Homo sapiens: one gene and its partner. The protein of the gene in region 2 purifies or fractionates together with the protein of the main gene of each other region. This does not show direct contact. Each region holds a gene or a part of one and is shown on either strand. Other genes may lie near its edges.

Evidence for each region. The genes of interacting proteins can lie anywhere in the genome.
Region 1: the proteins of IGFN1 (region 2) and PC purify together in Homo sapiens (affinity purification with mass spectrometry; one large-scale study listed by BioGRID and IntAct). This does not show direct contact.

What each region holds. Positions count from the first base shown.
Region 1 is NC_000011.10:66,867,735-66,871,383, reverse strand, and holds part of PC (pyruvate carboxylase, mitochondrial precursor), read left to right. Parts: coding exon 1-69; intron 70-186; coding exon 187-332; intron 333-491; coding exon 492-609; intron 610-930; coding exon 931-1,082; intron 1,083-2,419; coding exon 2,420-2,538; intron 2,539-3,649. UniProt on the Homo sapiens protein: Pyruvate carboxylase catalyzes a 2-step reaction, involving the ATP-dependent carboxylation of the covalently attached biotin in the first step and the transfer of the carboxyl group to pyruvate in the second.
Region 2 is NC_000001.11:201,193,736-201,197,384, forward strand, and holds part of IGFN1 (immunoglobulin-like and fibronectin type III domain-containing protein 1), read left to right. Parts: intron 1-418; coding exon 419-538; intron 539-2,103; coding exon 2,104-2,243; intron 2,244-3,482; coding exon 3,483-3,582; intron 3,583-3,649.

The DNA of each region.
Region 1 (3,649 bases), on a different chromosome or scaffold from region 2:
GGCCAAGCCCAGAAGTGGTCCGCAAGATGGGAGACAAGGTGGAGGCCCGGGCCATCGCCATTGCTGCGGGTGAATATAACGGGCAAGCAAGGGGTGGCCCCGCAGCTCCTGGAGAGGGTCCAGCAGGGAGGGGTGGCAGGGATTCCCGCCTGTTACAGAGACTCCCCCACACCTTTCTCCCAACAGGTGTTCCCGTTGTCCCTGGCACAGATGCCCCCATCACGTCCCTGCATGAGGCCCACGAGTTCTCCAACACCTACGGCTTCCCCATCATCTTCAAGGCGGCCTATGGGGGTGGAGGGCGTGGCATGAGGGTGGTGCACAGCTACGAGGTGAGTGAAGATGCCCAGGGCTGGGAGCAGGGCAGGGCAGCCTGCCGTGGGGGCAGGGGCGGACCACTCAAGGGATCTGGAAAGTGGGTGGGGTTCATGGCAGGGGAGAGGTAGCGCTGTGGGGTCTGAGGTCTGGCTGGCCCCTGCCCGCCCTCGCAGGAGCTGGAGGAGAATTACACCCGGGCCTACTCAGAGGCTCTGGCCGCCTTTGGGAATGGGGCGCTGTTTGTGGAGAAGTTCATCGAGAAGCCACGGCACATCGAGGTGCAGATCTTGGGTGAGTGGTCCTGACGCCCCGCCTGGGGCAGCTGGAGGCGGGAGCTGAGAGGCCCAGTCCTGGTGCCGTCACAGTGGCTGGCCTTGGGGACAGCCCTGGGGCCTGTCGGGCGCTTTTCCAGAGGACTCTGGAAAGTGGGCTCTAGGGGCCGAGCTGGCAGTTGGTCCTCACAGCCTTGGTGATGCTGGTGTCTCTCCTGGCAGCCTCTGTACCGCTGGCAGCCGGCACTGACTGGCGACAGTGGTTATGTGGGGGTGATGGGGCATTTAGGAGGCGTGTAGATTCCAGTAAAAGCTAAGCCCAGTTTACCTCCCTCCCCAGGGGACCAGTATGGGAACATCCTGCACCTGTACGAGCGAGACTGCTCCATCCAGCGGCGGCACCAGAAGGTGGTCGAGATTGCCCCCGCCGCCCACCTGGACCCGCAGCTTCGGACTCGGCTCACCAGCGACTCTGTGAAACTCGCTAAACAGGTGAAGGGTGGGCTTCCCGTGTTGGGACAGGAGCCTGTGCTCACAGGCCGGCAGGCCTCACAGTGGGGCGCTGGTTGGGGAAGGGGACCCTGAGTCCCCTTCTGGGGACTGGGGATGGGGAGAAGAGGGTGAAGGACTCTCCTGGGGGCCAGAAGTGGGTTTGTGGCATCCTTCCCATGTGCAGTTGAGGCACCTGGCCCAGAGGCCAAGCTTAGAGTCCAGGATGGCTGAGAAGAGGGAGGGAAGGAGCCCCAGCCGCCTCCTCAGCCCTGCTGCTACACAGACCTGGCTTCTCTGTGGCATCAGCTCATCCCTGTCATCAGGAGAATGAGATTCCGTGGATTCTGTCAAGATTGAGGACCATTATGAAGGCAGTCCTCCCTCATGTGCTTCTGTCTCCTACATCATGTTTATTATGATCTGTTTCCTTGCTCTGCACCCTCTGCCCATCTCTGCTTTTCTGGGACCTCTGGTCGGGGGGTCCTGGGCTGTGGAGGAGGCTGAGGTGGCAAGCTATCTCCCCACAGTGACCTGCCCCAGGACTGGCCTGGAGAGCACCTGCTGTGGCCAGGTGTGCAGCGGGGTCCTGCCCCCTCTTCTTCCCTGGCCTATAGGCAGCAGAGGATGCGTCACCTCCCCATGCCGAAGGCCGGGGTGTGCACTCTGCAGCAAGGCCTCAGCCACAGCTAATGCGAGGCATCGACCAGGGTCGCGTTTAAGTCAGGTCTTATTTACTGGCTTATACTATTTCACATTCCAGAACAGGTTTAAGGGAGGTGATTCAGTCTGGTTTATCGTTTTGGTGAGACCAAAAGTGAAACTGGAATTAGGGCTGAAATTTGAGTTAGAGTCATTATCTGTTGGTACCTCTCAAATGAATTTCTTTGGGTGGTGGTGGCCAGAGGTGACTGCGCAGTAGACTAGAAGGGGACTTTCTGAAAACACCTCCAAGCAGAAGCAGCGGCTGGGAGAGGCCTGGGTCTCCGTGTCTGGGTGGATGACACAGCCTTGGCGGGCAAGCCCAGGAGGCAGCAGGGCAAGGTGCCGAGCCTGGGATGGGTGGGGGCTTCTGCCCATGTCTCGTCCCAGATAAGCTGGGTGCAGCCATCTGTGGCTCCGGGAACCCTGGAGCCTAGTGGACTACTTGGGGGACGTGTCCAGGCAGGAGCATGACCTGGGCCCTGGGGTCTGTCTGCCATCTGTGGGGGCAGGGTTTGCCACAGGCCATTCTTTTACGGAACCAACCCAATGGGTGGGACGGAATCCCTGTCCTGAGTCCAGTGAGTTTGCCCAGGCCCTGCCTGTGCCCTCCCCTGCTCACGTGGCCGCCCCCACAGGTGGGCTACGAGAACGCAGGCACCGTGGAGTTCCTGGTGGACAGGCACGGCAAGCACTACTTCATCGAGGTCAACTCCCGCCTGCAGGTGGAGCACACGGTCACAGAGGAGATCACCGAGTGAGTGTGGGCGGGCAGGCGGGGCGGGAGGCGCGGCTTCTAGGATTTGCATAAAGTACAGGCGAAGTGGCTCCTGGGGCCAGCCAGGGGGCTTGCTCACTCCCCACATTGGTGGAGAGCAATGGGGATCCAGGTACTTAGTGTTTTAAAAGTCATTATTCTAAAAGCATTACGTGGTTATTATAAAAATCAGCACAAAGGAGCAAATAAAAATGACTGACAGCCCTCCTCTCTGTCAGGACGCTGCCGATTGCTCAGGCCCAGGTGCTCCCATCTGTCAGAGGAGTAAAGCAAGGCTCAGAGACATTTGGAGAGTTGCTCGGGGTCACACAGCTGGCGCTGGAACCCAGGCATCTCCGGCTGTCTTTGGTTTGCTCCTTTCCCGGTTTACCTGTTTTACTAGAGACATAGTTTGATGCAATAGAGATGTTTTATATAGAATTTTTATTCTACTTTTCAAATTATTTAATATTTGTTGAAGGCATTTCCCCAGGCCATAATTCTGTCTGAATACTTTTAGTGGCTGCGTACTATTCCGTCTTGTGTGTATTTCTTAACTTACATAGTCCTCGATTGTTAGGCAATTAGTTTGTGTGTCTGGCTTTGGTGGTTATTAAGCGTGTCACTTATCATCTGTGTGCCTGAATGTTTGGCTTCAGCTCTGAAGAGTTCTGAGGGTAAACCCTTCAACAGGATTATCTGATTGAAGGATAAGTAGCATCCCTCGGAACAGCCCTCTAGAGAGGTGGCACTAGCGTGCTCCCTGCAGGCACTGAGGATGACATTTTCAAAATCCGCCTGGTTTCTAAATGACAGTCATGATGGCCCTCACCCTTCAAGGTCTCTACTATGAGCCATGTAATTTCTTGACGCTGCTTTGGGCCAGCCCATCTCACTGTGGAGCATCCCTGACCCCAGTTCTGCCCCCAGCCCCAACCCCACCTGAGACTGAGGATGCTGTCGGGGTGGCTGCTGTGGCTCGCCGGGGGCATGGAGGCCCCTCCCTCCCCTTAGGAGAAGCTTAGAGACAAGGCCAACACTTTGGCCGAGTGAGACTCTTCCCCTCAAGCTGCTGTGAACTCCTCGGTCTTGGGTCTGCTTAGAGCGTCCT
Region 2 (3,649 bases):
GCCACCGTGCTTGGCTTTTTTTTTGAGTCTTGGCTTTGGGTTTTGATTTGTTTTCCTGAGTAAGGAGTGCAAAGCCCCCACACGAGCTCCTGCTTCTTGGCTTCCTGAGAAGGAGCCCTTTCTCACTCTTTCTTCCCAGCTTTTCCCCAGTGACACACTCAGGGTCTTCCTAGGGTGCCCCACCCACTTCCTAGAGGCTCCATTCACACTGCCAGAGTGTGTGCCACCAGATTCCCACTAGAGAATTCAAAAGCACTGTGCACAGGCAGGAGGTACTACAAATAATCCTGACCCAAAAGTAGGAGCGAGAAGGGGCTTCTTGCTCCTGGGGTGAGTGGGTGGATGCCCATTCTGTTGAAGGGCCACCCAGGAGGAAGAAGGTGGAAGGCCCCATCTCCTTCCCTCCTGCATTCTCCAGGAAAGCTCCGGAAGTCCCACATCCCTGGAGTGAGCATCTGGCAGCTGGTGGAGGAGATCCCTGAAGGCTGCAGCACGCCGGACTTTGAGCAGAAGCCCGTCACCTCGGCTCTGCCAGAGGGTGAGCCCAGAGGGGAGCTGCGGAGGGGAGGCAAGATTCTTGCTCTCCTACCTCCCAGGGGAGAGGGCTGGGGCACCAACCTTCCTGGGGACCCAGGCCCTATATCCATCACTAGGCCATAGCCCATCTCCCTCCTATCCTTGAGGGGGTATGTGCTTACCTGGAACCCTAGAAGTGACAAGAGGCCTGGGGAAAAGAGTGGATAAAGAGAGTGAAGAGACACCATGCTATTCTGGTGTGAGAAATATCTGGGGGGCAGGGATGGAAAAATGCTAAACTGGGGAGCAGGGAGAGGTTGTGGTGTTTCCTGGTCCCTGTCTCCTCACCTCAAAGCCACTGCTGCAGAGAGGCACTGTTAAAACAGTTAATTTGACTCTTCCCAATCCTCGCCTCCAGGCAGCAGCACCTGCTGTGGCTCACAGGCTGGGCTCAGGAAGGCCCTTCTAGAAGGCCACATAAGAAGGTGTCCAAGAAAGTGGTGGGAACAAAGGCTTATTGGGGAAAAAGTGGGAATTGGTGTTCTTTCCCCAACACACACCCTGCAATAAATTTTAGTTCATAGCATCCTGGTAATAAGAAAAAGAATGGTATTTTATTTTTCTAAATCTGGAACAAGGTAATGAGAAATTGGGAAGGGCCCTTGGGCCTTTGGTCTATATTGCTGTCTACTGAGATGTTCCTGGTGGGAGGCTGAGGGATTCCTTGAGGGCGGGCAGTTCCCAGGCCTCCATGACAGGCATGGAGCATGGGGTCTTTTCTGAGGCTGAAGCCTGTGTCTCAGCACCGGATCCTTCGGGCACCAAATAGTCACTCCTTCTCCTAGTTGTGATTCCTCCTCCCCCTAGAGAGTAGGAAGGGAAGCCAGAAAATCTCTTCTTTTTTTTTTTTCTTTTTTTGAGATGGAGTCTCGCTCTGTTGCCCAGGCTGGAGTGCAGTGGCGCAATCTCTGATCACTACAACATCTGCCTCTGGGGTTCAAGTGATTCTCCTGCCTCAGCCTCCCAAGTAGCTGGGATTACAGGCACATGCCACCAAGCCTGGCTACTTTTTGTATTTTTAATAGAGATGGGGTTTCACCATGTTGGCCAGGCTGGTCTCGAACTCCTGATCTCAGGTGATACGACTGCCTTGGCCTCCCAAAGTGCTGGGATTACATGCGTGAGCCCCTGCGCCTGCCCGGAACTCACAAAATCTCATTCCCTTCCTAGTCTTGGCAGAGCCTTCAGACTCCTTGCTCACCCACTCTCAAAGAAAAGCCCCTGTCCCCTAAAGCCCTGCTGGCCTCCCCTTTCACCAGGGCCAGTCCACCTGTCTCTTTCCCTCAAGCAGCCCAAGCTTCTGCAATATAGAAAGAGGAAGCACTGCCTTCTGGGTGCCTGGAATCTGCTGCTTTCCACCTGCGTATTCTGAGTCCTGAGTCAAGGGGACCAAGGCCTGGCATCCTTTTTGGAAGGGGCAGTTGAAATACCTAGATGAGGAAGACGATATAAATTAAAATTTAAATAAAGTATACAGTCACCCTCTCCCAACTTGTCAGTCTCCCTACTCGTCTCTTCCTGCTGCAGGGAAAAATGCTGTCTTTCGGGCTGTGGTCTGTGGGGAGCCCAGGCCCGAGGTGCGTTGGCAGAACTCCAAAGGTGACCTCAGTGATTCCAGCAAGTACAAGATCTCCTCCAGCCCTGGCAGCAAGGAGCACGTGCTGCAGGTAAGAACCGTAGCTCTTCCCCTGACCAGGGTCTACTCGTCTTTTCCCATCCCCTTGAAGGTCTCTTTGGCAGCCTCCAATCCCTAGAGGAGTAAGACATACTCCTCGTTGAGGTTGAATCCATTCAACTCCATCTCGTGACTCAAAGTTGCCTGAGCCAAGAATGGATCTGGCAGGCTTGCAGATACCTCTGCTGATAACCTGGGAGGTGGTGTAGACTGGAGCTTAAGAGCTCAAGCTCTGAAGTCAGACTGCTGGAGTTACAATCCCAGGCCCACCACCTTGGCTTTAGAAAGTCATTTTACTCTTTTTACCTCTGTCTCCTCATTTGTAAAAATGGGATAATAATAGTACCTACTTTAAGGAGTTGTTATGAGTTGTTGTTGAGATGGATCTCACTCTGTCGCCCAGGCTGGAGTGCAATGGCGTGATCTTGGTTCTCTGCAACCTCCACCTCCCAGGTTCAAGCGATTCTCCTGCTTCAGCCTCCCAAGTAGCTGAGATTACAGGCATGCGCCATCACGCCCGACTAATTTTTGTATTTTTAGTAGAGTTGGGGTTTCACCATGTTGGCCAGGCTAGTCTTGAACTCCTGACCAACAATGATCCATCCGCCTCGGCATCCCAAAGTGCTGGGATTACAGACATGAGCCACTGCGCCTGGCCAGGAGTTGTTATGAGGATGAAAGTTTTATGTAAAGTGTCTAGCTAGTGCCTGGCCTATAGTGAGTACTCAATCAATCTTGGCTAATCTGAGCAATATTATAAATACTAACCATGGGATACCTACTATGTGCCAGGCCCTACTATGTCCCAGGGGCTAAATATTTGACATAGATTATATATTTAATTCTAATTATTCACCACTTTTTTGAGGTATTATATTCCCATCTTACAAATGAAGAAACTGAAGTTGAGAGAAGTTAGGTAACTTGCCCAAGGTCCCACAGCTAGTAATACAGGACAGAGACTGTTTTCAGGCCCAGATCCATCTGACCCCAAAAAGCACACTCTTTCTACTTCGCTACATTGCCTCTGATGGCAAAGAATTGATACATCCACCCTCTGTCCCAAACCAGGTTTCTGTTTTGGGGTCTGTCTTTCCTGATAAAGACTGTGAGCTCCATGAGGACAAGGACCATGTCTTACTCACTTTATACCCCCAACACATAGCCGTGTCTAGTAAATGGAGGAAGGGGATGTGGTAGCCCTGTTCCTCTGCCCTTGGCCTCTCTGCAGATCAACAAGCTGACAGGCGAGGACACGGATCTGTACCGCTGCACAGCAGTAAATGCGTACGGAGAGGCCGCTTGCTCAGTGAGACTCACTGTCATCGAAGGTGGGCTTTTCCCTGAGTTTGTCTCATCAGTGCACAGGGCAGAGACCCACAGAGGAATCAGATGCCC